Linked DNA regions of Homo sapiens. The protein of the gene in region 3 purifies or fractionates together with the protein of the main gene of each other region. This does not show direct contact. Each region holds a gene or a part of one and is shown on either strand. Other genes may lie near its edges. The genes, in order: PKP1, SERPINB12, TRIM50 and NEK7.

The links.
Region 1: the proteins of TRIM50 (region 3) and PKP1 purify together in Homo sapiens (affinity purification with mass spectrometry, with the first as the bait; one study listed by BioGRID). This does not show direct contact.
Region 2: the proteins of TRIM50 (region 3) and SERPINB12 purify together in Homo sapiens (affinity purification with mass spectrometry, with the first as the bait; one study listed by BioGRID). This does not show direct contact.
Region 4: the proteins of TRIM50 (region 3) and NEK7 purify together in Homo sapiens (affinity purification with western blotting; one study listed by BioGRID). This does not show direct contact.

Annotation. Positions count from the first base shown.
Region 1 is NC_000001.11:201,313,120-201,320,872, reverse strand, and holds part of PKP1 (plakophilin-1), read right to left. Parts: intron 7,708-7,753; coding exon 7,313-7,707; intron 4,321-7,312; coding exon 4,176-4,320; intron 3,302-4,175; coding exon 3,094-3,301; intron 2,256-3,093; coding exon 2,078-2,255; intron 1,058-2,077; coding exon of another isoform or gene 995-1,057; intron 607-994; coding exon 492-606; intron 1-491. UniProt on the Homo sapiens protein: A component of desmosome cell-cell junctions which are required for positive regulation of cellular adhesion.
Region 2 is NC_000018.10:63,565,710-63,573,423, forward strand, and holds the end of SERPINB12 (serpin B12), read left to right. Parts: intron 1-897; coding exon 898-1,302; 3' UTR 1,303-3,620; downstream 3,621-7,714. UniProt on the Homo sapiens protein: Inhibits trypsin and plasmin, but not thrombin, coagulation factor Xa, or urokinase-type plasminogen activator. May play a role in cell differentiation.
Region 3 is NC_000007.14:73,310,807-73,318,082, forward strand, and holds the end of TRIM50 (E3 ubiquitin-protein ligase TRIM50), read right to left. Parts: intron 5,884-7,276; coding exon 5,759-5,883; intron 2,864-5,758; coding exon of another isoform or gene 2,823-2,863; exon of another isoform or gene 2,705-2,822; coding exon 2,115-2,704; 3' UTR 1,730-2,114; downstream 1-1,729. UniProt on the Homo sapiens protein: E3 ubiquitin-protein ligase that ubiquitinates Beclin-1/BECN1 in a 'Lys-63'-dependent manner enhancing its binding to ULK1. In turn, promotes starvation-induced autophagy activation.
Region 4 is NC_000001.11:198,256,605-198,264,357, reverse strand, and holds part of NEK7 (serine/threonine-protein kinase Nek7), read right to left. Parts: intron 1,784-7,753; coding exon 1,721-1,783; intron 234-1,720; coding exon 123-233; intron 1-122. UniProt on the Homo sapiens protein: Protein kinase which plays an important role in mitotic cell cycle progression. Required for microtubule nucleation activity of the centrosome, robust mitotic spindle formation and cytokinesis.

The DNA.
Region 1 (7,753 bases), on a different chromosome or scaffold from region 3:
TCATCTCAGGGGGGACACTAAGCCCTGGGGGCACCAGTATGGATTCCTCTGGGCTGTGGGGCAGGGCTCGGGGTCACAGGACAGGCCTCAGCACCACCAATGAAGCACAGCCAGCAGATGCTCGCTGGGAGCTTCCTCTGTGCCAGGCCCTCTTCGTGTTTTGCTTATTAACTAATCAAGCCTTTCAGACAACCCTTGAGGTTGATATGATTATGACCCTTTCCATTAGAGTGAAGAGTGAACCGGGAAACAGAGAGATTAGGGAAGCAGCTGCATCTACTCCACTTCTAAGTGAGGGAGAGTGGATTTGCATGGGCACGCTGTCCCCAGAGCCCACTCCTGTAGCCACCACTGAGCCCTGCATCCAGATGCCTCTTCTACCACCCCTGAGTCTGTGCTCCTGTCTTGTCACTGGGCCAGGCCTCAAAGGCACCCAGAAAATGTAGGGGGCTGGGCCTAGGGGTCAGGGTGCCACCAGGGGATGCACTCACCTTGTCGTCACAGCGGCTGGCCGCTACACAGTTCTGGACATAGGCCATGAGGGAATCAATGAGCCCTGAGTAGTTACGCATGGTCTGGCGGCCTGCATCGGCCGAGCTCAGGTTCCTGGGGGAGAGAAGAGGGTGGAAGAGGGCAGAGAAAGGGGGAAGAGAGAACGGGGAAGGTGGGGACAAGAGAGTGTGGTGGGGGACAGGCAGGAGAGAGAACAGGCAGGAGAGGGGAGGGCAGAGAGGAGACGACGGGGTGGAGATTGGAAGTTGTGGTAGAAGGAAGGAAGGAGAAGAGGAAAGGGAGGAAAGGAATGAAGAGAGGAAAAGATGAAAACGGAAGGAAAGAGAAACCATTTAGCCAATTCCGCCTGGCCCTGGCTGAGGCTGAAATGAGGTCTCATTTGCACTCAGTTCTTCTCCTCCTTCACTCTGCCCAGTAACTTTATAACTGGCAATGGCTCCATGTGGCAACGGTCCCTCCGCAGCTGCATCCCAAGGCTCACACCCTGCTACTAGTGGCCCTTTGCGGAACAAGAGCCAGAAGCTCCCGCATGCCCAGTCTCTTTCTGTGGGACAGGAAGAAGCCCTGTTGATGCTGGATCAGAAGTGGATCTGGGGGTGGCCGGGCTGGGCACCAGAAGCTCCCTCTCCACCCAAGCTGTGTTCTGCCCCCAGCAGTAGGCTCACTCCCAAGCAATGTGGGCTCATCCCCAAGCAATGTGGGCTCATCAGCCTGGTGCAGGTGGGGTGTGGCTGCTGTTGCTACCAGTAGCACATCAACCCCATAAAACTCTTAATTATCCTCACTTTTCATCTCCCCAGCCTCTCTGCTTCCTGGAGGCTGCTACCGGAGGCTGGCAGGGAGAAACACAAGTTGAGACACAGAGGCACATGCCAGCTGCACCCACCACTCTGGGGGGATTCTCAGGAGTTGGGAAAGACAAATCCCATTAAAGCAAGACAAACCCCATTAAAGACCCTAAAAGGGATCCTGCTCCAGGGTTCCAAGCCCTGTACCAGCCGCCCCTCCACACCCACCCATTTCGCCAGCTTGTAAACCACTGCTTCTAGAACAAGCCCTCCCACCAGCCCCACAGGGGCTTTGCCACACCCTGGTATGGAACTTAGGCAACTTTGGGTGAAGCAGTGCCATCTTCATGCCAATGAACATGGCAAATGGTTTTAACACCACAGCTGGGAAGTGACTCATTAGCAACCCATCGGTAGACTTTTGTCTAAAAGAACACTCTTCAAGATGATAGCACAAGAAATGCATTTTTTTTCATGGGGTGGAGGAGGGAAATGGTTGAACCAGTTTGGATATTCAGATCTAGGCATTTTCAAGCTCAGATTTCTGACTAATGTCCGCTGCATTCTCTCAAAGGGGGTGGTAGGGTCCTGGGCCTTATCCAGTTCCAGGGAAGTTAGGAAGGCCTGAGTCCCTGTGTCTTGGAGCCTGCCCATAAGAGGGAGTGCCGGGTTGTCTGTTATGTTCTATGCACCGGCTGAATGTTGGCTGAGATGGGGCTGCCTGGGGAAGGGCCCAAGGCTGGGACAAAAAGACCCCATGTATCCTCTTCTCTCACCTCAAGCAGCCTGTGGCATTGAAGAAGACCTCAGGGTCCACCACTTCCCGGGACATGTTGCTATTGCCATCGCACCAGCCAGAGAAGGGAATGATGACGCGGTCGGCCAGAACAGGCAGGGCGTCGGCAATGAGTTCCTCCTTCAGCTCGTCAGTGGAAGACAGGTTCCAGAGCAGCCCTGGGGGTCAGAGACCATCAACCCAATTTGTGCCAGGCTCAGGATGCCCTAGGGACCGAGGTAACAGCCCCAGCCTGGACTCTGGCAAATGGGCCCTACTGAAATGTCGCTTTCCAGGTAGCCCTGGTCTGTAGAACCTATTGTCTGTCTGTGTCATGAGGCTATTTCTCAATGCCCCAACCAGACTGAAGGTTCTTTGCAGGCAGGGAACATCTCAGAGTTCTCTGTCAAGGCCAAAATTATGCATGTGGAAAGTGATCAAAAAACGTTTGATTGATCAGTGGTTTTTAGTATAAATTTTAGCACTTGGAGTCTTCTAACGCTGTCTCTTTTCCATCTGAAAGTTATGCCAGAAATACTTATCAGTCATTACTCTGTACATGGTCTGATCTTCCCAGCCCAATTCTAGGTCTTCACGGTGACCTCTTCCTCTTGTGCCCCCCACCTTGAGTGCCTACCATATTTCTTGAACACAGGGTAGGTGCTTAAGGCCTGTTAACCCCTTCTCCCCTCAGTCTTACTCTCTTTCCATCACCTGGGAATCCCAGGGCTTGTGGAATATGGATCTTGCCTGGACATCAGCCTTCCTCCTTTTGCTCTTTAACCTCAAAAAGATGGTGACCCCTTGTGTGTGCACACCACCCAAGGTCACCCTCTGGACACCCCTAATTGGGCCAAGGCCAGTGTCACTAAACTCTCAGGATATTAGCCCTGGGCCAAATCTGCACAGCTGTGTCTTGGCCCAGCCTGGAGAGACAGGCTTGCACCCCAGCCTGGGGCCATAGCCAGTGGCCTTGCACAGCCCTCAGGCTGGCTCTCGGTGGCCGTGTTGTCCTACCAGTCAGCTGCTTCTGGATCTCGGCGTTCCCGGTTCTCCTCAGGAGGCTGACTGCCTCGCGGATCCCATTCTGCCTCCGGGTCTCCAGCTTGTTGGTGGTGCTCCTGAACACCAGGTTGCGCAGGGCCCCTGCCGCGGCCTGCTGGACGTTCTGGTTGGGGCTGCGGAGGAGGTCCACCAGCTTGCAGATGCCTCCCAGCTGATAGACCTGCCAGGAAAGAGTTGCCACGCTGCCTGGTCAAGGGAGATGAGGCTGATCTAGTTATTCTCTACTCAAAGGTGATTTTTTTTTTCAGACCAAAAAATCTATCAGTTCAGAAATATTCAAGTCAACCAAAATAAATAAGCAGTGTGAGGTCATGATAACTGACCCAGACCCGGAGGCAAAAGACCTGGATTCAGATCCTAGCTCCCATATCCTAGCTCCCATATCCTAGCTGGGAGAACCTCAGCTAGGGTCCCTCCTCTTTCCTGAGTCCTGCTTTCTTCCTCTGGAGAATGATGGTGAGGACCTGATAAGAGAGTGGATGTAAATACATTTCAAAACCCTAAAGCAGAACACAGACATAGAAATGCATACAAACTTATCCGGGACTCTGGGAAACTCATTTTTGACACTACATCCTTGGGCTGAACTGAAGAACCCTGTAGTGTCCTTCCTGCCAGCAAAGCTTTGGAGGCATCAACAGGCCTGTTTTCTACCGTAAGATGCCTGGAGAGAGAAGGGGAGTGGGAGAGAGGAAGCAGGTAGGAGGGCAGGAGTTGAGAGGTGAGGAGCAGTCATGTTCTTTAGTGGGATTTGAGAAAAGGGGTTTCTGTTGAACCCGTGGCTGGCATTGAAGTCTCTTCCATGACCAATGGAGGAATTGTACCTGCCTAATGTCCACTTAAACAGAGGGCTTTGCTCTGCAGAAAGTTAAGATGCCCAGCTCTAACCTTGGGCAATGCGAAGGCTCCTGGCAGCTGGGCAAGGCAAGAGAAGCCAACTGCAGATGCCCTCACCCATCTCTAAAAGCGGAGTCAGGCTGACACACCCAGGCCCTCCGCAGGCCCACCAAGGAGGAAGGTATGCAACCAGCTACCTGTTGCTTGGCAGATTCATCCTGGAAGCAGGTATGCTGGATGTAATAGGCCCCAATGGCCTGGTACTTCTCATCCTGGGAGCTCAGGTACTGCACAGCCTTGGGGATGGTCAGCCCACTGCACTCGATGTCCTCACTGCAGATCCTGTGAAGAATAGGCAGTGGGGGTGGTTACGGGGTGGGCTGGGAGCCCTGCTGAGGGGGCTCAGAATTCCTCCCAGCACACTAAGCTGCCACAGCCTCATCTGCCCTCTGGAGAGCCAGAACAAGGCAGCCCAGGCCCACTTGGAGAATACCCCTGGGAACAGCTCCTCTCCTCCAGAGGAGGGAAGGCTACACCCACTGGATTTGCCCCATGTGAGAATAGTGAGCCCCTGGTCACAGTTAATGTCCTAGCAGGTATGTTATCTCTCCACTGAGGAAAAACTCCTCCCTATTCCCTGAGGGGAAGCTTCCCACCTACCTTGCCATCTCTCTTGTTTGTGTCTGGTATTAGGAAAATGGAAGACAATGGCCATGATCCTATCCATCCATCCATCCATCCATCCGTCCGTCCATCCGTCCGTCCGTCCGTCCATCCGTCCATCCATCTGTCCATCCATCCGTCCGTCTGTCCGTCCATCTGTCCATCCATGCATCCATCCATCCATTTATCCATCCATCTATCCATCCCCAAGTCCAGCTGGCTCTTACACAAAAATGTTCACATCTAGCCTTTCTTCCCATTCTTATAGCCACCAATTTCCTGATCTTGATCACTTTAAAGGCAGCAAGGGACTTCCATATTTGGCTTTCTTCCTCAAGTTCCCCCATCTAAAATTTCATACCCTTTTTACTAGATAAGTGGTTCTAAAACCCAGTTCACTGTGTTGTTCTCTAGCTCAGAAACCATCAGCGGCTTCTCCATACTTCAGGTTCAAGTTTAAACAGCTTAGCCTGATGTCCAAGGGCAGGTATTAGGTTGAATCATAGGAAATGTCTGTAGTCAACCTTTTTTCAGCCATAAAACCAGAAATTTCATATGTTTTAACCTAATAACCCGGCTCCACTATGAACATTCCCCAGCCCCTATCCAGGGTCTGCTCCAGCAAGACTGTCCCCTTCACTGTACCCTGGCCAGGTCTCAGGCATGCCTCAAGGCACACCACTGGCCCTGCTGATGCCCCACATCTGTGAAGCCTTCCTAGGGAAGGGAAACCTCTCTTCTAAGAACCTCTCCAGCTCCCCTGGTGTAGAGTCACAGGGTGGTGACTGGCTGTGTCCAGCATTCAAAGAGGGAGCCCTATCCTTATGCTTTGACATACTTGGTGGTCAATAAATACCCATGGTTTTAGCTATAGCAGCCCAACTTCATTTCTAGGAAAACCACCCGAGGTGCAGAGTTCTCTGGCACTGGGTAAGTAGTACTGCTGCCTGCATTGAGAGAATGTCACCCTGCATTCATCAGTAAAATGTCACCCCAAAATGGCTTGACACTCATCCCTTCCATATCTCACCTAGAACCTCCACTCAGGGCCTCTGGTTGGGACAATGAGCTGAAGCCAGAGGCTGCCCTGATCAGCCTCCAAGACAGAGAGGTTTCTTAGTTCTTCTCCAGATCATCCTAAATACGCCTTACGGCCATCAGGTAGTTCGGAAACGTCTAGCTCTATAACGGGGTTCTGCTTATTTTCAGAACAGTGTGGTACCAGTAGGGAAGAGCACAGGATGGAGAGCCAGCTGTGTGGCCTTGGACAAACTACTTAACATCTCTGTGCCTTGTTTTCTCCTCAGGAATACTCATGCCTGCCTGGTGGCGGGTGTGAGGATTAAAGATGAAGAATGCAAAGCTCCTGAGGCTCTCAGAAAAGGAGTTAATTGTGTAGCTCCAGAACAGCTCTGGGTTGTCCCTATCATGGCTGTGTCTCCCGCACTTGTCAAAGAGCCTGGCATGTAGTAGATGGTCGGCAAACATTTGCCAAATAAATAAATAACAAGAGCAGTAGGTGGTGATGAAGGACAGTTCAAAGGTTCAGGGAGCCCCCAGCCCTGAAGGGCAGGCTCAGTGTCACTCACGACACCTCTGCGTCTATGGCTCCTAACGGGGCACCCCATTTGGTCTCCTTTGTTTCCTCTGGGTGATGGCCTTCCACATGTATGCACAGGAGTTGTGCTCTGTTCTGTAGCAGTAGATCATGAAGCCCCATGAAGTCCCTCAGGGTTTTTGTTGTTGTTGTTGTTGTTTGTTTGTTTGTTTGAGACAGGGTCTCACTCTGTTGCCCAGGCTGGAGTGCAGTGACACTATCTCAGCTCACTGCAACCTCCCCCTCCCGGGCTTAAGTGATTCTCTTGCCTCAGCCTTCTGAGTAGCTGGGACTACAGGCACCCGCCACCATGCTTGGCTAATTTTTGTATTTTTCTGTAGAGACAAGGTTTCATCATGTTGTTCAGGCTGGTCTCAAACTCCTGAGCTCAAGCACCCTCTACCCGCTCCTGCCTCGGCCTCCCAAAGTGCTGGGATTACAGGCGTGAGCCACCACACCCAGGCCATGTCCCTCAGTTTTTATGTCTATTTGTCCTATTTGTCCTTTGGATTTACCTGTCTTATAACGTAACCTGAAACCCATTCTATTCCCGTCGTCCATACCGGGGCATATTCCTTTGCTCTTTCAGAACATGGATAGAGATTTACATGCCTAAGATCAGAGGTTCTCAAACTCTAGTGTAAATCAGAATCACTGAAGGGCTTGTTAATATATGCATTGCTGGGCCCCTCTCCCAGTGTTTCTGAGACAATAGGTCTGGGTGGGTCCCCAAATGAGCATTTCTAACAAATTCCTGGGTGATGCTGATGTTGCTGGTTGGAGGAACACACTTTGAGAACTATTAGCCTCTTTCTGTTCATAAACTGTGACCTTTAAAACCTACACAGTCAATGTCTGTTTCACCTTCACACTAAGAACTTCTTGAGTTCAAGGGCCCATGGGGCCAGGTTCTCCCCATTAGGGAGTCCATTACACCAGGGGCAATGAACTCCCCAGGGACAGAAGCTATGTCTCTCCTGTCATCCCAGGAGCCCTTTGCAGGGTGCAGTCAGGCTAAGGGTGTGTCTCCCCACTGGCCCTCCTGGCTCCCCAACCCAGCCCAGCAGCACTCACTTGGAGCTGGCCCTAGAGTGGCCAAAGGACAGGTCCTTGTTGCAGGAGATGGGCGGGATATACACAGGGTCCTGCTTGGAGGCACAAGAGGGCGGGCGCACAGGGCACTTCTTTATGGCCTTCTGACCACTGCAGGTGCTGTAAAAGCTGTAGCGGTTCTGGGTGGTCTTCTGGCCCTTGCTGCCCAGCGTGCCCTTGCGCAGGGTGCCCCGTGGGTCACAGTAGAGGTCGGGCTCACTGCGGCTCGCCTTGATTTTCTGCATGAAGCAGATGTCGCTGCCTGCGCCGGTGGTGTTACAGCTGCCCCGGGGGTAGTGCCGGCTCCAGTTCTCCATCTGGCTGTAGGAGCTGAAGCGCCTGTTGTCAGGCTCCCGCTTGAGGGTTCCATTGTAGATCTGGCCAGGGAAAGGGAGAAAAGCTCAGTCAAGGTTCCTAAATGGG
Region 2 (7,714 bases), on a different chromosome or scaffold from region 3:
TCAGCTGTCAGAGACATCAAGGAATGTGTAAGAATCTGAATTAGATTAGATATTTATTCCTCATTTGTTTAGAATTAAACAACAAATGCCAAAAATATTGGGATTGGAGTTTCTTCTTTAATCTCATAGCTCTCTGCCACTGTTTTAGCAAATCAAGGAATCTGGGTTCTGAGTAACTTGAAAAGTTTTTAAGTTTTCCCTTTTCTCTGAATATTCTGACTTCTGGCCTCTTACTCATACCATTTTTCTATAGCTCAGTTAATTAAAGAATTAACTGAATACTGTTTTGGGGAATATGTACCTTGACAGAAGTGTAGAGAGTGACAACAGAATTGATTGCTTGTGAGGTAGGAATTCATAAAGGCTGGAGAAGCTCAGCTACAGATTGTCCAGGGGGGTAAAGAGATAAAGATAGAAGGAGAGAGAAAGTGAGAAAGGAATACCAATATAGCAGGTATAGTAGTTACAACATCAATAACAACCATTATTCAGAATTTGCTATGTGCTATCACTGTGTTAAGTTCTTTATATACATGATTTTATTAATGCTTGCAAGAACTTAATCATATTATCTCTCTTTTATGGAAGAGGAAATTTAACTTCAGAAAATGAGGGCTTGGCCACAGAACTCAACTAATCGACTGAGCTTTGCTGTGCTTTGAACACTTGTCTCTCAAACACCAGAGCACACTGGAACCTGAGTTGTCCCCTAACTTCTTCTAAAGAGGAAAGATATTTGCTTGAAGTTTTAAATGAAATCAGACTATTCTCTAGCTTAGGGAAAGGTCTTGAAGGTTGTCACTGCCCACTGAAAGGGACTCAGGCACCTTGAAGTAATTGGGGCATTCTTTGTGGTCCCATAATCTGATGCTAAATATTATTTCCTTCCTCTTGTAGCTTGAAAGGAAAATCACCTATGAAAAAATGGTGGCCTGGAGCAGCTCAGAAAACATGTCAGAAGAATCGGTGGTCCTGTCCTTCCCCCGGTTCACCCTGGAAGACAGCTATGATCTCAATTCCATTTTACAAGACATGGGCATTACGGATATCTTTGATGAAACGAGGGCTGATCTTACTGGAATCTCTCCAAGTCCCAATTTGTACTTGTCAAAAATTATCCACAAAACCTTTGTGGAGGTGGATGAAAACGGTACCCAGGCAGCTGCAGCCACTGGGGCTGTTGTCTCGGAAAGGTCACTACGATCTTGGGTGGAGTTTAATGCCAACCACCCTTTTCTCTTTTTCATTAGACACAACAAAACCCAAACCATTCTCTTTTATGGCAGGGTCTGCTCTCCTTAAAAGGGGAGCAGTGTCTAGTACTTTGGAGCTGGAGGAAAATATCAATACAATCTTCCCCTGGCATAAGATGGGCATTTGAGTTTTTGGTAATATCTAAAGCATCTCCTTCATCCTCCAGCCATCGGCTTGTGCTTATCTTGATCTTTCTGTCACCCTGTAGCTTATTTTCATCTGAGTCTGTTAGTATTGAAGGGCTGTTGTTCTCTACCCTAAACTTTCAAGCATATAAATTCACCCTCTGTGACCTGAAGGTCAACACAATTCAGAACAGTACCTACCTCCTTTTGAAGGAATCCTAAAAGTTCAGGTCATTAGACCATTTCTAAGAGATGGCAAACTCAGAAGCCACTTTAACATGGGCAGCAAGAGAACATGTTTGACTGGAACGTGTTTGGAAACTCAGCTCTGTTTCTGGGGTAGTTTGACCGGAACGTGTTTGGAAACTCAGCTCTGTTTCTGGGATAGTTATGATTGTGGTCATCACTGGGCGAGATGCCCTGTTTCTTCCTTTGACAGCTACTGCATGGAAGATGTCCTGTGAGGTCTTTTCACCTAGGACAAGGCAGGGCTTGGGCGTATTTAAGTGATAGCTCAAAGATGTGTGACTGCCCCAACCAGCACTCATTTTGCACAGAGCAGGGGAATGATATTTGTCTTGTGATTTTGACACTGACCCAGGAAAGTGGCTAGTGGATTTAGAGGAGGTTTATCTCAGTTTTCCTTATTGAGTCCCCCAACATTATCATCAAACACTTCCCTCTGTCTCTCCTCCCCCTAGCTCCAAGAATTCCCACCTGTGGCTAGCTCCTTTTATGCACCCAGCACAGGCAGGTGTCAAGAGAAGTGCTGCTGGCATTGTGGACGGCTGGCCTCCGTATGCCCCTCTCTCTGCCTTCTGGCCACGTGGAGGCTGGCCTCTGTGTGCCCCTCTCTCTGCCTTCTGGCCACGTGGAGGCTGGCCTCCGTGTGCCCCTCTCTCTGCCTTCTGGCCACGTGGACTTTTGTGTCTTCCGAGAGGTCTCATGCCAGACCACATGGTGACAACAGGCTTGAGCCTGGGCATGGTGTCCATAGCAATGCTTGTTGGCTGGGCATGATGGCTCATGCCTGCAATCCCAGCACTTCTTGGGAGGCCGAGTCAGGTGGATCACTTGAGTCCAGGAGTTCGAGACCAGCCTGGGCAACATATTGAGACCCTGACTCTACAAAAAATACAGAAATTAGCCGGGCGTGGTGGTGTGCACCTATAGTCCCAGCTACTCGGGAGGCTGAGGTGGGAAGATCACTTGAACCCAGGGGATGGAGGCTGCAGTAAGCTGAGATGGCGCCACTGCACTCCAGCCTGGGTGACAGAGCGAAACCCTGTCTCAAAAAACAAACAAACAAAAAACCCAAAAAGCCAAAACAAAACCTGAAACCCTTGTCAAGAAGGCCATTGGGCTCATCTCAAGCTCTAGTCTACTGAAGGCCTGACCTCTGAGTGTTCCTACTCGCGGACTCAGGGCCTCTGTTCTCTGGTGTGGTAATCTGAGTTCCTAATTTCTATCTTAGCTGAATGTTCTGCCATGACCACTGACACGTCCAACTCACATCTCTTTGGAGTCAGTCTCTTTCCTATCGAGGTGGGTTTCAGGTCTTGCTTGCGGCTCAGTTTCCTTGGCCCACCTTGTGGCTGTCCTCCTCCCAGCTGCCACCAGTCGTTCAGTGTGGCCACGCAGTTTTTTTGCAGAAGGCAGGTGAACCACACCTGCTCCCATGCTAGCCTCCTCTTCCTTTTCTCACCTACCCCAGTGATTTCTTTGTGCTCTGAGAGACAAGTTCCATGTTCTCCATACAACCTTCTCATTGTTGAAGCTCACTTACGACCTAAAACAATTTGACGTTGGTAACGTGAGGCAGTTTGAGGCAGTGCCCTATCCAGAATGCATGTCCCATGGGTCAAATTAATTTCAGATAACCAAAAACTTCATGTCCCCTGTGGTTCCTTTTGGGGTTGACGTTTTGGGGGCTGTTTCCATGTCTGACTTGGCACCACTGCCCGACACGTAGCTGGAAACCATGACCTATATATAGGCCTGCACTGCCCGGCATTTCTTTTGTTCTTATTCTTTTACTTGGTAAACACATTTTTTTTTCATTTACATCGGGATTTCTCAGATTTTGAAGCATGAGAGGGAGAATGTATCTATTTACAATAATGAGGAAAATTAAGAATCTTAAATCTTTATGTAAATCAGTAAACATTCTTTACTAACCTTTGATTTATTAAGAAGTTTCTTCTGAATGAATAAAGCACTTTTGTTATTAGTTAAAATATATACGATGTGTTGCCAACTGATTTTTTTAGGGATATAAATTTAACTTCAAACTGTTTCATCCAAAAATATAAAAATACATAATCTATGAAACTAACAATTCATCTCAGTTACACAGGAAAAATACATCTTGCCCCAGTAATAGTTTCTCCCAGCTTTCCATCATAATTACATATGAAGGCATATAAAAAAGATGAAAACTGACAATGCTAAAACCAGAGTGATAGCCAGCTGATCATCAGAATATAGAAGACATTTCTGCCGACTACAGGTTTTTCTTTTTTTTTTGTTTGAGATGTAGTCTTGCACTGTTGCCCAGGCTGGAGTGCAGTGGTGCAATCTTGGCTTACTGCAACCTCTGCCTCCTGGGTTCAAGTGATTCTTAAGCCTCAGCCTGCTGAGTAGCGGGATTACAGGCGCCCGCCACCACGCCCAGCTAATTTTTGTATTTTTAGTAGAGAGGGGGTTTCACCATGTTGGCCAGGCTGGTCCTGAACTCCTGACTTCAAGTGATCCACCTGCCTTGGCCTCCCAAAGTGCTGGGATTACAAGCTTGAGCCACCGTGCCTGGTCCCTGCTGACTACAAGTTAACGAGGCTGGGCAGTGAGGCATTGTTGAGGGGTCACCTGCATCTCATTGCCAGTGAGTCAGTCTGCCTGTTTCCTCCCATTGCTGCCTTCCTCTGAGTTCAGAAACACATGCTGTCTCTCAACTTGAATTTTAGACGTCTATCTCTTTATTTTGTACTTGCTGCTGTCCTTCACCCTCTGTCTTTCTTATTAGTTAGTTTCTTTTTTTCTGCAGCCATTTGAAGACTGAATGACTTCCCAATTATGACTTGGGAGAAGGTGAGGACAGGCATTTGTTCTTTCCATCCTAGGCAGTTTAGTCATCAGCAATAAAATACTTTTGGTGGAGCCAAGGACAGGAAAAGCCTTGGTGGCAGAGTTCTTGGATATTTTATCTACACTGTCTGTCTAAAGTGTCCCAGACCCAGGCCATACAAAGAGGAGAATATTTACCTGAGCCCAGCAGAACTACACTAGATGGAAGACTTTCAGACACTGGAAATTATGTTCCAAATAGGGAGACCTTGACTCTTCATTTTTCTTGCACCAGCAAGATTGACCCAGCAATATGGTGCCCAGGGGTAGAAAGAACATACAAGTCCATAGGCTGATATAATTGCTGGAAAGCCAACCAGAGCATGATTTTAAATCAACAAGAGAATGAGCTCCCCACTTCCTCAGTTTAAGGTTTTCTCCATATAGCAATGTTGACAGGTAGAACAGATGAGGTAATGTAGATTCAAAAACAATTGTTTCACTTATGCTGACTGTAAATATTCTGGTAAGAGAAACATGGACATATAGTACTCAACAGGCTCCCTAATAGATACAGAATCTGTATGTTCAATTGCATTTCAATTCAAGTCCTCCTTATAACTTCACACATTGTCTAGCGCATACTCCTCAAACTCTTCTGTAGTTTTTTTCCTTGAGCTGCGACAAGCCAGAACATGTGTTGCTTCATTCCTAATTGCTGTTTACAGATTTTGCATGCTGGTATTTTTAAAAATTACACTGTCATTAACCCGAGGCGGAGGTCCAGTTGGAGCAACAGGGTGAGGAATCTTGTGCAGTTGTCTCAATGGATTTCTTTGCTCCACAGTTGAATGCCAATTCCAGATGTGTTCTTTATCCACACCACTCGTCTTGCATTCTTCGTTTCCCAAATCCATTTTATTTTCTTCTTACTCAATTAAAAGAATCCAAATCCTTTCTTTACCCAATAAAAACAGAAAATATCCCCAAATATGCATACTTAAGTATATTAAGCATATCAATATACTTATTAAGCATATTAAATAATAATATATTCATAGTATTTACATTAACTGTAATATATACTTGATATTTAATTTATAAATGCTCATATTCTAATGCAATAAATTTCCCATTTAAATACTGTTTCCCTTCATGTGCTTCAACAAAGTTTTAGCTACAGAGAGGTGAAAAGGATTTAAAAAGCAATCCAGTGCACAACAGCGGGGCTGAGAAACTTGCACACCTCTTGTTGACACACATAGGTCCTGAACAGATCATTCCATGTTCAAGATTAAATAAGTAGAAACAAAAGTATAAGGTATGAAAAAAATCAGTGCCAAATAAGAAGAGATATATCATGTTATAAATGAGAGAGAGAGAGAGAGAGAGAGAGACTGACTTCATAAAATGATTTACAGCAAGAACTGGAAGAAGCTTTTAGAAAATATGCCCAAAATGCATATTAATTTTGGGCATAATTAATAGGATTTAAGAAGACACAAAATCTATGGAATTGGAGTGCAATGCCACAAAGATAAACTCTGATAAGATGTGAAAAAGCTAAATGAGATGAAAACAGACCACTAGGGAACAAAAAAATGCAATAGATGCCATAGAAGAATTTAAATAGAATTTAAAGGCAATAAAGAAGCAAAACTGACATGCTGGAAACTTTAGTTAGTGATGAATAGGGTGTATTTGAGTGTGTCTCTTAGAATGTATAGGAAATAATAAGAGAGAAGTTGGTAGATATAAAGAGAGAATAGAAAGTAAACCCAACAACTATGGTGTTTCTCAGGAAAAAAGAAGACTAATTGGCATAAAGTCAACAATCCATGACATGATGGAAGAAAACCTTTTTAACTTGGATAGTCACAGGATCATACCGAATGATTCGCCCTCCCCCTGCAGAGCAAAAACAGACATGCTGAAAAACTTTAAAAGATTGAGAAAGTAATCCTATCAGCATTTGGGCAAAAAAAGAAATAGTTATAATGTATAAAGGATAAAAAAAATCAGATGAGCATCAAATTTTGTTTTGTACAAAATTTCTGAAGATAGCGAAACTTAGTGTGCAGGTCTGAGGGAAAATATATGATTAAAGAATTTCATATCTAGGCTGGTTGGCTTTTGTGTATGCATGGAACAGAAAACCATTCTCAGATCTATTTTGGTGTATGCGAATGCAGATATATTTTATCTTTAGCTCCTGACACCATGCTGTAAACATCACAGGAATTAAAATTAAATGCATGTTGTTTTGAGTGGCATCCAATGCAGTCAAAGACTCAAAAAGCTAGTGTATTAATCCATTTCATACTACTAATAAAGACATACCCAAGACTGGGTAATTTATAAAGAAAAAGAGGTTTAATGAACTCACAATTCCACATGGCTGGGGAGGCCTCACAATCATGGTGAAGGAGGTAGCAAGGAAGGCAAAGGAGGAGCAAACTCATGTCTTACATGGTGGTGGGCAAGAGAGCATGTGCAGGGGAACTCCCTTTTATAAAATCATCAGATCTCATGAGACTTGTTCACTATCACGAGAACAGCACAGGAAAGATCTGCTCCCATGATTCAATTACTTCCCACCACGTCCCTCCCATGACACCTGGGGATTATTATAATTCAAGGTGAAATTTGGGTGGGGATACAGAGCCAAACCATATCAGCCAGTAAAAAAATTCCTTCAGTAAAACTATGACCTCAATTGATAATCAATGGAAGAAGAGAAATTCCTCATTTAGAATTCTCACTATGCCCAATAATTGTTGGCAGCTGTGACTTTTCCCCTTAGCACTGGTTTTTTTTTTTTACAATGTTGGGTTCAGGCATGGAATGAGTTTCAATATCCAGAATAAGACTGCAACCATGAAATATCTGAACTGGGACAGTAATAACACTAATACTTGTGCTTATTGTGTGCCAGCTTTTGTCGAAGACCTTTATGTGCCCATTTAACACTCTCACTCATCCTAAGAGGTGGGTTATTATACTTATCCACCCTTAACAAATGAGGAAACAGAGGCACAAAGAGATTAAGTAATTTGCCTAACATCCCTCAGACAGCAAATGATTGAACTAGGATTTTTAACCAGGCTGTCTGGCTGGATGTTATACAGAAGATATATCACCACCACTCAATGAAAGTATCAAGAAGTAGAAGTTCCCAACAAGGTTTGTAAGCCACTAATACACTTGCCCCAAAGCACATTCAGGCCCTACCACCCTGAAATTGCCAAGGCAAGTTGTGGTAAACCCCAAAG
Region 3 (7,276 bases):
AGAGGAAGGACAAGCGCAGTGACTCACACCTGTAATCCCAGCACTTTGGGAGGCCGAGGCTGGCAGATCCCTTGAGCCCAGGAGTTCGCAACCAGCCTGGCCAACATGGTGAAACCCCATCTCTACTAAAAATACAAAAATTTGCCAGGTGTGGTGGTGCATGCCTGTAATCCCTGCTACTCAGGAGGCTGAGGCAAAAGAATTGCTTGAACCTGGGAGGCGGAGGTTGCAGTGAGCTGGGATCATACCACTGCACTCCAGCCTGGGCAACAGAGCAAGACTCTGTCTCAAAAAAAAAAAAAAAAAAAAAAAAAAAAAAAAAAAAAATAAGAAGCAGAGGAAGATTAGACCGGCACATACAGAAAAGGCCACGTGAAGACGGAGGCAGAGATTGGAATGATGCGGCCACAGGGCCAGGAAACACCAGGGCATGGCAGCCACCACCTGAAGCTGAAGAGGAAAGGGGCAGGTTTTCCCCGACAGTCTCCAGAGGGAGCGCGGCCTTGCCGTCATCGTGATCTTGGACATCTGGCCTTCAGAACCATGAGAGATTAAATTTGTTTGAAGCCACCAAGTTTGTGGTCATTTGTTACAGTAGCCACAGGACACCACAGCCACAGGATAAATCTCAGGGATGGGGGAGTAGGAAGATCATGAGCGCGGTTTTGGACATGCCCTTGACGTCCAGGCGGAGCTGCTGAATGGCTGGAGCGCTACTGGATGTGGCATGTAAGGGACGGGTCTCCCGGAGAGGGAACTTCTGAGTCATCCCTGTGGAAGTGATGACTGGAGCTATGGGTGTGGAGGGGTAGACAGCCAGAAGAGGAGCCTGGAGGTCCTCAGGCCATGAGTGGCCAGGAGGAGAGGCTGAATCCTTGAAGGAGACTGAGGAGAGGAGGGAGGAAAGTCAGGATTGTGGGGAGGCTGAGGGTTGCTGTTTGCCCCAGCTAGTCTCCCTCAGGCCCTCTTATTGGTCTGTGCACCCAGTTTGACTTCCAGTGGCCAGAGCCAGCATCTTGGTTAGAGGGCTACCCCAGAGCTTCCAGGACCCACTTAGCCTGTGGGTATGGTGAGTCAAAGGGGCATGACAGCCTAGGCACAGTGGCTCACACCTGTAATCCCAGCGCTTTGGCAGGCCAAGGTGGGAGGATTGCTTGAGGCCCAGACCAGCCTGGGTAACATAGCAAGATCCCGTCTCTACTAAAAATTTAAATATTAGCTGGGTATGGTGGCAGACACTTGTTGTCTCAGCTACTCAGGAGGCTGAGGCAGGAGGATCACTTGAGCCTGAGAGGTCAAGGCTGCAGTAAGCTACAATTGTGCCACTGCTCTCCAGCCTGGGTGACAGAGCAAGATCCTGTCTCTGAAACTAGACTCGAGGCTGGGCACGGTGGCTCACGCCTGTAATCCCAGCACTTTGGGAGGCTGAGACAAGTAAATAATTTGAGGTCAGGAGTTCAAGACCAGCCTGGCCAACACAGCGAAACCCCATCTCTACTAAAAATACAAAAATTAGCTGGGTATGGGGCACATGCCTATAATCCCAGCTACTCGGGAGGCTGAGGCAGGAGAATCACTTGAATCCGGGAGGTGTAGGTTTCAGTGAGCCTACATCGTGCCACTGCACTCCAGCCTAGGTGACAGAGAGAGACTCCATCTCAGGAAAAAAAAAAAAAAAAAAAGACTCGAGCATAAAGCAGTATGTATAGCAACTAATATGTGCAAATCATTTAAAGAGAAAGAAATAATGTCAAATTTATTATCCTTGATAGTAGTTGAAAGTTCACAGTAATATGGAAAAGGTATACATGGGACTATTTCTGCCCTCGGAAGCGTCTGCGCAGATAGCATGGTTAGCAAGTGGCAGGAACCATGGGGATTTCAGTGTGTCCCTGGCTGCCAAGGCCTGGGGGCCGAAGTTTACAAATACACCCTTGGCTGAGGGGAAAGGGACTGGGGTCCTGTTCCCTATCATTACATGTTCCAGGGACACACAGGCCTGAAGACCTTCCTAAACAGTGACGATATCACCTCAGGCGGGACCCAGCAGAAGCCCGCGAGTCCCCGGTGCCCCGCCGGGATGGGCCTGTGGGCCGGCAGGACTCCGGGCGGCCCTACAGCTTGGTGGGCTGCTCGGGGCTGAGGGGGCCAGGCCCGCTGGGCGGGGGCAGCACCATGGGCAGCGAGTTGCTGCCCCTCTCGTGCCAGCAGGTGTCCAGGATGGGGTAGAGCTTGCCCTGGAAGTCGGCCTGGAAGGTGTAGAGCGGCCGCAGGTCATCGGGGCGGTCGGCATCGAAGAAGGTGAGTTCGCCCTGCTCATAGTGCAGGTAGAGCCCGATGCGGTGGGGGTGGCCGGCCACGGGCAGGGGTACCCGGGGGCAGGCAAAGGCTTCGTACACCCGGCCCTCCTTCAGGCCGATCAGCCACACGCCGTGCTCGGGGGACCTGTTCAGCTTGCCCTTACGGCTGGCTGTGCCCTTGATGACCCCCAGGCGCCAGTCGCTCTTGCTGCCCACCACCACCTCCCAGTAGTGGCGGCCGCAGGAGAAGCCGCGGCTGGCCAGGACGCAGGTGCTGTAGTCGAAGCGCTCAGGCTGGCTGGCTCGCCGCTGGGCCAGAAGCCCGCACTGCACCACCGTGTTGCCCTTGGAGAGCTCCAGGAGTGGGTGGGCAGTGGCAGGGTCCAACTTGAGAGGCTCCGGGGCTGGGAGGGAGATCACAGAGGGTCTGTGAGGCCACGTGGAGGGCAGCAGACCCGGCCCACAGAAGCTGATGGAGGCCCTGAACTCCCCAAGGAGAGGGGCTGTGTCTTCCTCATCTCTCTAGCCCCAGGGTCTAGAAGGGGCCAGTACAGGGCTGCTCCCTGAATGAATGAATGAATGAATGAATGAATGAATGAATGAAGTTTTACATAAGGAAGATCAATCACAGACTGATTGCATCCACCCAAGGCAAAAACAGTGTTTATATAAAAGGGAGCAGCTTGGTGGGCTGTGGGGGGCTGAGGTGGCTGGAGAAAGAAATGGACACTGGGCTCGGGGTTCTGGCCTGCCTGCCTGACACAGAGGTGTTGTGGGAAGGACCCGGAAGACACCTGTCCTGTGAGCCTATAGCTCAGCCCTCAGGGATTTCTGGAGAACCCATAACAACTGCAGCTGTTGGATTTGCTAGCCTAGTCAGCCTATTCAAGGACGAACTAGCCCACCTGAGCTTTTTGCTAGTTACCAGCTGATCCGTTTACCCCAGAAATGTGAGATGTGCTCCCCCCTGCCCGCCTCCCACCCCTTCCCGCCACCCAAGTTGCCGCAAGGAAAGAAGGCCAAGGGGAAGAAGGTGGCTCCGGCCCCTGCTGGCGTGAAGAAGCAGGAGGCCAAGAAAGTGGTTTATCCCGTTTGAGAAAAGGCCTAAGACTTTTGGCACTGGACAGGACTTCCAGGCCAAAACGGACCTCGCCCACTTTGTGCAATGGTCCTGCTCGGTCAGGGTGCAGTGGCGGACAGCCATCCTCTATAAGTAGCAGAAACTGTCTCCTGCTATTAACCAGTTCACCCAGGCCCTGGACCGCCAAACAGCTATTCAGCTGCTTAAGCTGGCCCAGAAGTACAGACCAGGGGCAAAGCAAGAGAAGAAGCAGAGACTGTTGGCCCTGACTGAGAAGAAAGCTGCCAGCAAAGGGGATGTCCCCACTAAGAGGCCACCTGTCCTTGGAGCAGGAATTAACACCGTCACCACCTTGATGGAGAACAAGAACGCTCAGCTGGGCCAGGCACAGTGGCTCATGCCTGTCATCTCAGCACTTTGGGAGGCTGAGACAGGCAGATCACTTGAGGCCAGGAGTTTGCAAGCAGCCTGGCCAACATAATGAAAAACCCCGTCTCTACTAAAATACAAAAATTAGCCGGGCGTGGTGGCACACGCCTATAGTCCCAACTACTCAGGAGGCTGAGGCAGAAGAATCACTTGTACCCAGGAGCCAGAGGTTGCAGTGAGCTGAGATCACACCACTGCACTCCAGCCTGGGTGACAGAGACTCTGTCTCAAAAAAAAAAAAAAAAAAAGGAAGGCTCAGCTGGTGGTGACTCCACGCAACATGGGTCCCATCAAGCTGGCTGTCTTCCTGCCTGTGCCTGTGTGTAAAGTGGGGTCCCTGACTGCATCATCAAGGGGAAGGCAAGACTGGGATGTCTAGTCCCCAGGAAGACCTGCACCACTGTCGCCTTCACACAGGTTAACTTGGAAGACAAAGGAGCTTGGGCTAAGCTGGTGGAAGCTACCAGGACCAATTACAACAACAAATGTGATGAGATCCGCCATCACTGGGGAGGCAGTGTCCTGGGTCCCAAGTCTGTGGCTCACATTGCCAAGCTCAAAAAGGCAAAGACTAAAGAAACTACCACTAAACTGGGTAAAACGTACACTGTTGAGTTTTCTGTACATGAAAATAATACAAATTTTCCTTCAAAAAAAAAAAAAGAAATGTGAGATGTACAAACAGGATTCACAGTTCACAAACTGCAATTTTTTTCCTTCTTATCTTTCCTTTTTTTTTTTTTTCATTCTTTTCTTTTTTACTGATGAGGTCTCCTCTGTCACCCAGGCTGGAGTGCAGTGGTGCAATCATAGCTCACTGCAGCCTCCCAACTCCTGGGCTCAAGCAATCCTCCTGCCTCAGCCTCCTCAGTAGCTGGGCCCACAGGCACATAACACCACACCCCACTAATTATTTTTTGTAGAGATGGCGTCTCACTATGTTACCCAGGCTGGTTTTGAACTCCTGGCCTCAAGCAGTCCTCCCACCTTGGCCTCCCAAGGTGCTGGGATTGCAGGCGTGAGCCGCCGTGCCCAGCCCCTTCTTTTATATAAACCCTATTTTTGCTTTTGGTGGATGAAATCGCTCTGTTAGCAGTCTCCCTTATGTACAAGACAGCATGCTAGTAATAAAGGAATGAAATGTGTTTGAGTTGTTTTTGACAGAGAACAAGAATAGGTTGGTTCAAAAGTAATTGCGGTTTTTGCCATTACTTTGAAGACCACTTGTCCTTTGAGTAGGAAGGACATTTTTAAAAGGATATTACTTTTTTTTTTTTTTTTGAGACGGAGTTTTGCTCTTGTTGCCCAGGCTGGAGTGCAATGGCACGATATCAACTCACTGCAACCTCCACCTCCCTGGTTCAAGTGATTCTCCTGCTTCAGGCTCCTGAGTAGCTGGGATTACAGGCGCACACTACCACGCCCAGCTAATTCTTGTATTATTAGTAGAGACGGGGTTTCACCATGTTGGCCAAGCTGGACTTGAACTCCTGACCTCAGAAGATCCGCCCTCCTCAGCCTCCCAAAATGCTGGGATTACAGGCATGAGCCACTGTGCCCAGACAAAAAGTACATTACTTTTAAAAGTAATGGCAAAAACTGCAATTACTTTTGCACCAACCTAATACCATTTATGAAGCACTAAGCTGCAACACACGTATGTCTATATACAAGCTCTGCAGCCTGGCCGGGTGGGTGCAAATAGCCCCACTTTACAGATGAGGAACCTGGGCTCAGAAATGACACAACTTGCCCAGCCAGCAGCTAGGAAAGGAAAGAGTAAGCAGGAACCCAAGCTGTTCGGAAACTCAGTCCCATGCTCTCACTAGGACCCTCCACAAACCTCCATCTGAGTTCTCTGTAGCTTATTATCTCTCTGATACAATCGATGAACTGCCACCTGCCCTGGGCGGCAGCCCTCAGGAAGGAGGACGGGTCAGGGCCTCACCTGGCAAAACTTTCCGGAAGAGCCTTTTCCACACGGTCAGCTTGATGTCAGCCTGGTGGAGGCCTGGCTTGAAGGAGATGGGGCTGAATGCGCCTTCTAAGGGCCGGGCCTGCGGCATCTCTGCTCTGCAGGTGACAGTTCACAGTACAAGAGAGTGAGGTATCACGTGGCCCACCCCACCCCTCCATCCTATCTATGTTTGCCCAGCCAGATCCACAGTGCAGGACTGCAGTCACAATGCCCATCAATGCCCATCATCCCCTCCCCTGCACAGCCCCTTCAGGGAGGACCCATCTCCTTCCTAGAAGGGGAAACGCTCTATAGTGGTGCTTCTAGAGTGCAGGTTTGGGGACCAGCAGTGTTGGTTGGAAAATGGTCCAACCCATTCCCAGTAGAAAGTCAATGGTCCACCTGGGAAATGGTCAGAAATGCAGGTTCTTAGACCCCACACCAGACCTGCCAATCAGAAACCAATTATGGGGGCCAAGTAATGTGTCTTTTTTTTTTGAGTCAGAGTTTCACTCTGTCACCCAGGCTGGAGTGCAGTGGCATGATTTCGACTCAGTGCAGCCTCAACCCCCTGGGCTCAAGTGATCCTCCCACCTCAGCCTACCTAGCAGCTGGGACTATAAGCATGTGCCACCATGCCCAGCTAATTTTTTTCTATTTTTGGTAGAGACAGTTTCACCATGTTGCCCAGGCTGGTCTTGAGCTCCTGAGCTCAAGCAATCCACCCACCTTGGCCTCCCAAAGTGCTGGGATTACAGCTATGAGCCACCATGCCAAGACTTTTTTTTTTTTTTTTTTTTTTGAGATGGAGTCTTGCTCTGTCGCCCAGGCTGGAGTGCAGTGGGGTGATCTTAGCTCGGTGAAACCTCTACCTCCCAGGTTCAAGTGATTCTCATGCCTCAGCCTCCCCAGCAGCTGTGATTACAGGTGCCTGCCACCACACCCAGCTAATTTTTGTATTTTTCATAGAGACGGGGTTTCACCATGTTGGCTGGGCTGGTCTCGAACTCCTGACCTGAAGGCATCCTTCTGCCTCAGCCTTCCAAAATGCTGGGATTACAGGTGTAAGCCGCCATGCCCAGCCTCTGTCCCTTCATTTAAACCCATGTCTTCTGACCAAATTGTCTCTAAGACTAAAAGAAATGTGAGAAACACGGAGTCTCCCATAAACAGGGAGTGAGGAAGGCTTGGGAACTGCACGTGTTCGTTTGTTGGGTCTAGAACATGGATCCACTCTCTTCCCACAATCTGCAGAGCAAGTTTCAGGCAGGGCTGATACTGCCTGCTGCGCAAGGGTGAGGAGGGTAAGCAAGGGATGCCCGGTGCTCCTGGATGTTGCTTCTGGCCATTTCCCACCTCTCCCAGCTCCGACTCCTGGTGATATCCTGCCTTACACCCAGCCACCCTGAACTCATAACCAGAGTCCACATGCCACTCCCCCTTTTACAGGACCGTTTCCTCGGCTTGCCTGGCAAACTCAGGTCCTGGGTCCTTCTCAGCCATCAGGCC
Region 4 (7,753 bases), on a different chromosome or scaffold from region 3:
TCAGATAAGCTTTGCATTGAGGTCTTTAGTTTAAAATATCTAATATCCCTATGTGTTTAACAGACAATTCTATTAGAAAAAAAAACAAAACAAAACATTAAGACAATTTTTTCAAAACTTACCTTGATCATTCTGGATAGGTCGCCAGCATCTGCTAGTTCCAAAACTATGTTTAGTTCATTATCTTCAATGAATGATGCATAATATTTTATTACATTTGGATGGTTGAGTTGCTGAGAAAATAAAACAGGCATCAGAAAGTTTTCTTACTGTAAATATCCAAGAGTCACTTATAGTTTTGTACTTAAGAACAAACTTCACCGTATTTTTTAAATTACAGAAATCTTAACATGACAGTATACTTTTCTTTAGTGAATTGTGAAACAAATATTACAATTATTAAAAGTAAAACTAGGTATAAATTAATTTATCTTAATATTCTTTATTAGAAAGAATATATTTTACGTTTAAATCTTAATTTAAAAGTACTGCTATGCCCAATAAGCATATCAACAGATGCAAGAAGTAAATGATAGAATTAGGTCGCCAACTGCTAAAAATTACATCCTCAAAATGAGAACTTTCATTTAGGAACACTCAATGATAAATAAAGTATCCCTTTTTACTCCTACTTGGAAGTTATGGTTGGTCCTAGAATAACTCCAGCTAGTAGACAAAACACAGCTGGTACCTACTATACTATATCTAACTATTGCTTTTATATCAAATAACATACAGGACTTATTCATGTGAGCCAATTCATAAAATCATCCCTAAGAAAAATTTTACCTTGTAGAAATATACGTATCAGTCCCTACTCATTTGCAATCCTTTTGTTCAATCTTTAAACATATTAATACAAGATGAATTGTTTCTCTGAGAAATTATGCAGAAAGTATGGGTGACTTTCTTCTTTCTACTTAAAGTTTTCGCTGCAAATTTTCTATGATGACATGCTATTTCCACAGTAAAAGTTTACATATATTTAAGCCAGCTACTTCATGTGCCAAGAAATAACTACAACTAACAGAATAGTCAGAAAACATTGTTTTGACCTTACTTTCTTCCTTTTTGCATAAATCTGGTTCATTTTAGGCACTAACACAAACGGATGGCATAAAAAAAGAGCGAAGTCTTAACTAAAAGTTAAAAATACAACATAGGCCGCAGTATTTCTCAAAAGAAACTTCACTATAAAAGAAGCAGTGCAGAAATAACTGAAATCTCAGTCATATTCTTAGTAGATGAGAAACTAAAAAGCTAATTCCTGGCATACTCTTTACATGCACTCTGTCTAAGTCTGGAAAAAGTATTGAAACATTAGAAAATGCATGTGAACCATTTTGATTAGTCCACATTCTCAATATAATACATGTTGAGATAATGCTAATTTGCATTTATATTACTTAACCTTTAGAATATGTCTTGTTGGGGTGGTCAAGAAAAAAAAATTCTTCAATGTTTTATGCCCATTTTATCTATTTCCTACTTTGAAATGAGAAAAAAAAGCTGGTCCTACAAATGTTCTGATTATGTTATTTAACAATAAATCCAAAAAATAACTACATTCTTCAGTATACTGAAATTTAACCTTATATAATATTACTTGAAATCAGTGTAGCATAAGTCTTAAAAACCTTTTTGTGTTTAAGTGTGATATTTTAGTAAATCACTTTTATCACCATGTTATGTTCAAAAGAGTCAACAGTTCATTAATTACCTTAAGAAGATCTATTTCTTTGATGCAATCAGCACGTGCTTTGGCATCCATTAAATCAAATATCTAAAAACAGAACCCAGAATTACTTAATAAAATAATAACCTATGGTTCAAGCTATTGTGTAAATTCATTTTAATACTCTACATGTAATTATTTGTACACTAAGGAATTTTCTTTCTGATTAGCTTTTCTTTATTAAGGAGTTCTGTAGGTATCTTATGTTACCAACATTGCTTACATTTTCAGCAGTCAGTATTTAAAAAATGGATAAAGAGAACAGGTAGATACCCCTTAACACTCAGGTCTTAAGTTCCAATGAACAAAATTAAAGTTGTGATTATTAAGATGATAAAGTAATAGCTAATATATGTTGAGCAATTAATATATGCTAAATGTACTGCACAACCTTATGAGGATGATAATAGTAGTATTCCCATTTTACAGATGAAGAAGAGAAGCTTTAGAAAGCTAAGGAGAATGACAAAAGGTCACACAGCTAATCAACAGAGCAAGCAGAATTCATTCTCAGAGTTATCCATCTAGAACCCAAGCACTGAACCATTAATCTGTTCCATCAAATCATGTCTAAAAGGTCTGATGCATGCATTCTTGACAAGGGTGATATCATTCCAAGGGGGTGAAAATTGGTTCTTTGTGGAGAAGGGTAACAAAATTTTACTCTATTAAGTATAAAGTATAGATACACATACAGTACTACACATAAACAGATATACTGTATTTGTGGAATTAAAATTTCATGGGTAGAGGTAATTAGGAAGAAATGTCTAAACAGGCAGCTTGGGGGGAGGATAATGAAGAAAAGGTTGAAAAATATTAACCTACTGTTAAAAACATAAAAATAAAAAATACAATCAAAAAGATATTTCATGTGTCTCTGAAAACACAAATCTCTCAAGGTTCTAAGTGTGTGGAAAATAACATTTAAAAAAGCAATATCTTAGAGACTGCAAAAAAAATCTAAGTCAGTACTGCAAGCTGATTAAAACCCTAGTTACATAACAAATAAAAAAATTAATGACATTTTTAGTAATCAGCTTGATCAAGTCTTCCTGATTCAGCCAGCTAACATTCCAGGAAAAGAAGGTACAATGTCAAAGGAGTGGCAGAATCCAAGTCTTTTTAATTAAAGAAGTAGTTATTAGACACTACCAGAGAGGGCTGGCCTCTTTACACATGATGCTTTAAACTTCATTGCAATCTTATAAGACAGGTAGTATTGGCCACAATAACAAGATGAGGATTGAGGCTCAAAAAGATTAAATAATATGCTTATGATCATAAAACTAGTAAAGGACAGAATCAGGACTTGAAGCCAGGTTGTTCTAGCTCCATAGTCAGTGTTTTCTCAATGAGCCAGGCTGTCACAAAGTCTAATGCATACACAACTAGCTAATAAGTATTAAAATATATGTGTGTACAAAGTGTAGTATTAGAAACCTAAGGAAGAAATTCCTTCCATGTAGGGTGGCGGGTACCATTAGAGGTGAACCTTGAAAGAATTATAGGATTCTGCCAGTCAGAAACAAAAGATATCTACTGCATAAAAGTAAATATGGAATAAGGGTGTAAAATTACAGCTTATAAGAGGCAACTTTTTCTAGATATCATTCTTAATATCCAAAGATACACAAAGTTCTAATTTGTCTTAATTTAAAAAACCATATGAAGATATTAGATAAGATTATAAAGCAAAAATAAAATCCATAAACTCACTGCCTTAAAGAATTTTAGCTTTGGCTCAGTCCCTTCTATTTCTTGTACAAACGCATGTGCTTTTTGCATAGTGAAAATAGCAGTATATAAAATGATATATATGCTTTTTCACTAACATTATTTTGGTTCTACTACTTCTAATGAAAACTTCAAGTATCAAATTTACGTTCTGCAACTTTTAATGTAAAATATTGAGCACTGCAGTTTAAGATTTGAAAAAATATAAAGCCTTACCTTACTTGATGGTTTACAAAAAGAGACAGACTAGATTACATCAAAGTTTCTCCCACTTAATCAAATAACAGAAGAAGAAATATGTATGCCGGTACATATATTAAAGAGAGTTAACTTCTCTTTTTTCCATTAGCAGTAATTCTAACCATGTCAGCCACAGTAAACTCATGTTAACTACCATGATTTCAGAATGGAACAGAATGCAACACGATGAAACAACAGCAAGGAAAGGAAAAGGGGTTAAAAAAAAAAAAGGAAAGGACTATGAGTGGCAAATCACTATCACAAAGTTCACATAAACTATCTAGTAAGATATGTTTTAGCTAACATTAAGCTGTTGTATACATTAAGCTTTGACAAAATGAGCTAGATATAAATGGACACCAATAGCAGGGGTTAAAAAAATTACCAGTATTAAAGAACAAACCATATGACACTATTTATGGAAGGAAGGAAAAACCTTGCAGAAATTTTCTCCAAGAGCATCATAGTTTTAACTCTACACACAAATTATTAATATGAATAACCTGATCCTGAGTACAGACAAGCTTAAACTGTTAATGCCCACCCTTTCTACATATAAAAATCCATGCTGAATGCCATCTTACTATCAGATTTTATTACAGATACAAATAAGAAAACCATCTTGCAGTCCTTTAAGATGCACAGTGTCAGATGCAGAATGCAGACTGCAACACAGAAAATTAACACGCAACTTGTAAGTGCTACTTGTTCAAAGTGATGTAAGAACCTTAATGGGGGTGAGCATGGCTGGCTGGAAGGGCTCTCAATAACTGATTTATATAAGCAGGAATGCGTAATGCCCTTCAGGAAAATATATATGTGTGTGTGTGTGTGAGTGTGTGTGTAAAATCGAAAGTTCTTGAACTGAAGGAATAAGCTTTACATTTAGCAATTTCACATAGAAATGCCATTCATTCCCCCAAAGGGATTATTATATCAACATGTTAAACAATAAAACAAACACTAATGGAAACAGAAAAATTTGAACTTGATATTAGTTATAGGTATGAAACACACACACACAGACTACTTGCACTTTAAATCAAAATGGCATGAGAAATAACTGATTCTTGACACATCATAAATGCTGATGCCATTCTCAGGAAATGCTATTTACAAGGAATTTGAGATAAATCAAAGATATACTGGAAAGCACAAAATTGTAAGTATATCAGATCTTGATGTAATTCCTGGTATTTTTGTTTGTTTGTTTTAGGAGGCAGAGAAAGAATAATGCCCATATAGTACCAGTAATTAAAATGAAGAAAATCACAAACTTGGAGACATATATGTATTTAATCTCTCAGTAATCAATGTCTCTATGATGTGGAACAACATTTTTAAAAACAAAAGAGGGTGAGTGAGATAAGAATGAATAATAGATGTATAAGAGTTTTAGGAAACCATAACAAGATACAACATATCAAGATAGAAACATGCTACATAGAAAATCTTTAATTCAAGTTATAAAAATTAATTTAGAATTACAAATTGACTTTTATTTTTAACTGAATTTTCAATAATATCAAAAGTCACTCCTCAAACACAGGGAGAAATAAGCATTGATGGCACATCTAAAGCAAAACTAAATTCTGAGCAAAATACATTTACAAATACATTTAACTGGAAATTCAGAAGTATCTTATCTTTCTTTTTCTCTCAGCCAACAAGTCAAGACAAAAATAAATAATAATGAATATTTAGATTACATCATTCCCAAACACAGATTCAAAGCTGTCCGATGATTTCATGAGCAAGAAAAAGCAGTATGTCTTGGGTGAAAATATGGACTTTGTAAGAATATCTTGCATATAATATGTACAAACAAGTCTTTAGGAGGCATCATTTTCATTCAGCTCCACCAAAGTTTCTTCAGGTTTTTAAACTCATTTTATACTTGGTAAGAGCAAGGGATGAGCTGTGGTTAGGCAAGTAATGACTGATAAATTCTTGGTATTCTCTGAATCATTTTAAAGGTTTTCTTTTGTCATCTTAAAATTTTGCCAAAATTACTCATAGCTAATGAAACTGAAAAGGTTAACACTAGATTTCTTTAAAAGGAAATGAAATCCTTCTAGTAACTTAACAGAAATATCCCCTTAAAAAGGCATATGTCAAATTGTTAGAAGAAAGACCATTTAAAATGCAGAAAACAAAGTACTTAAAAATATATACTAAGCAAGTTTTTGTTGTTGTTGTTTTTCTTTTTTGAGAGAGTCTTGCTTTGTCTCCAGGCTGGAGTGCAGTGGCGTGATCTTGGCTCACTGTAACCTCCACCTCCCGGGTTCAAGCGATTCTCCTGCCTCAGCCTCCCAGGTAGCTGGGACTACAGGCGTGTGCCACCACACCCAGCTAATTTTTGTATTTTTAGTAGAGACAGGGTTTCACCATGTTGGCCAGGATGGTCTTGATCTCTTGACTTCGTCATCTGCCCGCCTCAGCCTCCCAAAATGCTGGGATTACAGGCGTTGAGTCACCGTGCCCGGCTCTACAGCTGGAACCTTCCTGTCACTACCCTTCAGATGACTGACTCCTTATCCTCCACCTACGCTTAAATTTCACATCCTCGGAGAGGCCTTTGCTGCACACTCTATCTAAAATGCTCTCCTCCTCTAGTTTGTCTCTAATACCACAGCATGGTCATTTCCTTTTTGGCTATAATTATTTGATTTATTTTTTGCTATAATTATTTGATTTATTGTCTATTTTCCACACAAAAATGTTGGATTTAATTATTGTGTCCCACTATTGTGTCCCTATTGTCAAGTACAGTGTCTGCCATATAGTAGTTTAACCCCAAAATGTTAAACAATCCATAAAACTGGAAATTTTCTGTTTCTTATCTGCTTAGAAATGCTTAAGATTGCAAGTACAAGTAATTAAAATTAAAAAGCTTTAATTTTAAAGATAAAAGCCTATTCCACCTTGACAAGTAAAAACTAACATTAATTTACCAAATTGTTCTGTATCTTTTAAATGTCATTTATGAATTATTCTTACAAATGCTTAGTTTTCATTTATTCAAATAACAATTGGAAATCTGAAAGGAAGTCTATAGAGATTAAATGAAGTTCATAAAAGCTGCAAGATAAATTTATTAATCACAATGAACACTGAAAAAGAGATTGAAGGCAGAGCCACAGAGGTTACGAATATATTAAAATCAGCCTATGTATTATGGAAGTGCTATCATTGTCCACAAATTTCTGATCATATATAATCCTAATTTCTAATTATATGCAAACATGCAGAATCTAAACTTAAGATGATAAAAAGTAACTTATTAATAGAAATTAAAAAGTTATTTGCTTGAAAAATACTTTAAAGCAACTAACAAACATAAGTAAATAAAAGGTAAGCATTCAATATCAAAGAATACTTTGGGGAAGACTTTTTGAGATCACCTGAATCAAAAGGTAAATCTGAACAATATTATCACTTTATGTTTATTTGTATAAATACATAAAGTATTATTTTAGCTTTTCTTCCTAAAAAAAACTCACTGACAATGGCTGCCACACAGTAAAATAGTGTTATCTAGAAATATAGTTAAGAGTAAGCAAAGCGAAATTAAGCATTAATGAACAAAGGATCAAAATACCTCACGTATTATTTAAAAATGAGAGTACAATGGTCAAAGAACTAAGAAACAGTGAGACCCAAAATTCACACTACTGTAACACTATGTCAGACTGATGAAATAAAAACCAACTTCATTCCTATAGCTCTAATCAATGAGCAAAATATAATAAAATAGAGATTGCATATACCAGATCAAAATAAGTTTTTGATAATCTTCCAACATAAAGAACGTAAGTTTTGAGACCCAGCTCACGAACTCTGTGAAGCCTCTTTCCTAAGCTCCTCCTCACACCTGTTCTCTTCAAGGCTGCTCCTATCACATGAGTGCCTATCTCATTATGTTAGAGGTGTCTTTGTTGTACCCCCACTAGAATCCCATGAGTCTCATTATGTTTATCTTAATCTTCCTAAAGCCTTAGACACTGACCAATAAACACTAGGTGGCCAATAAATACTGGA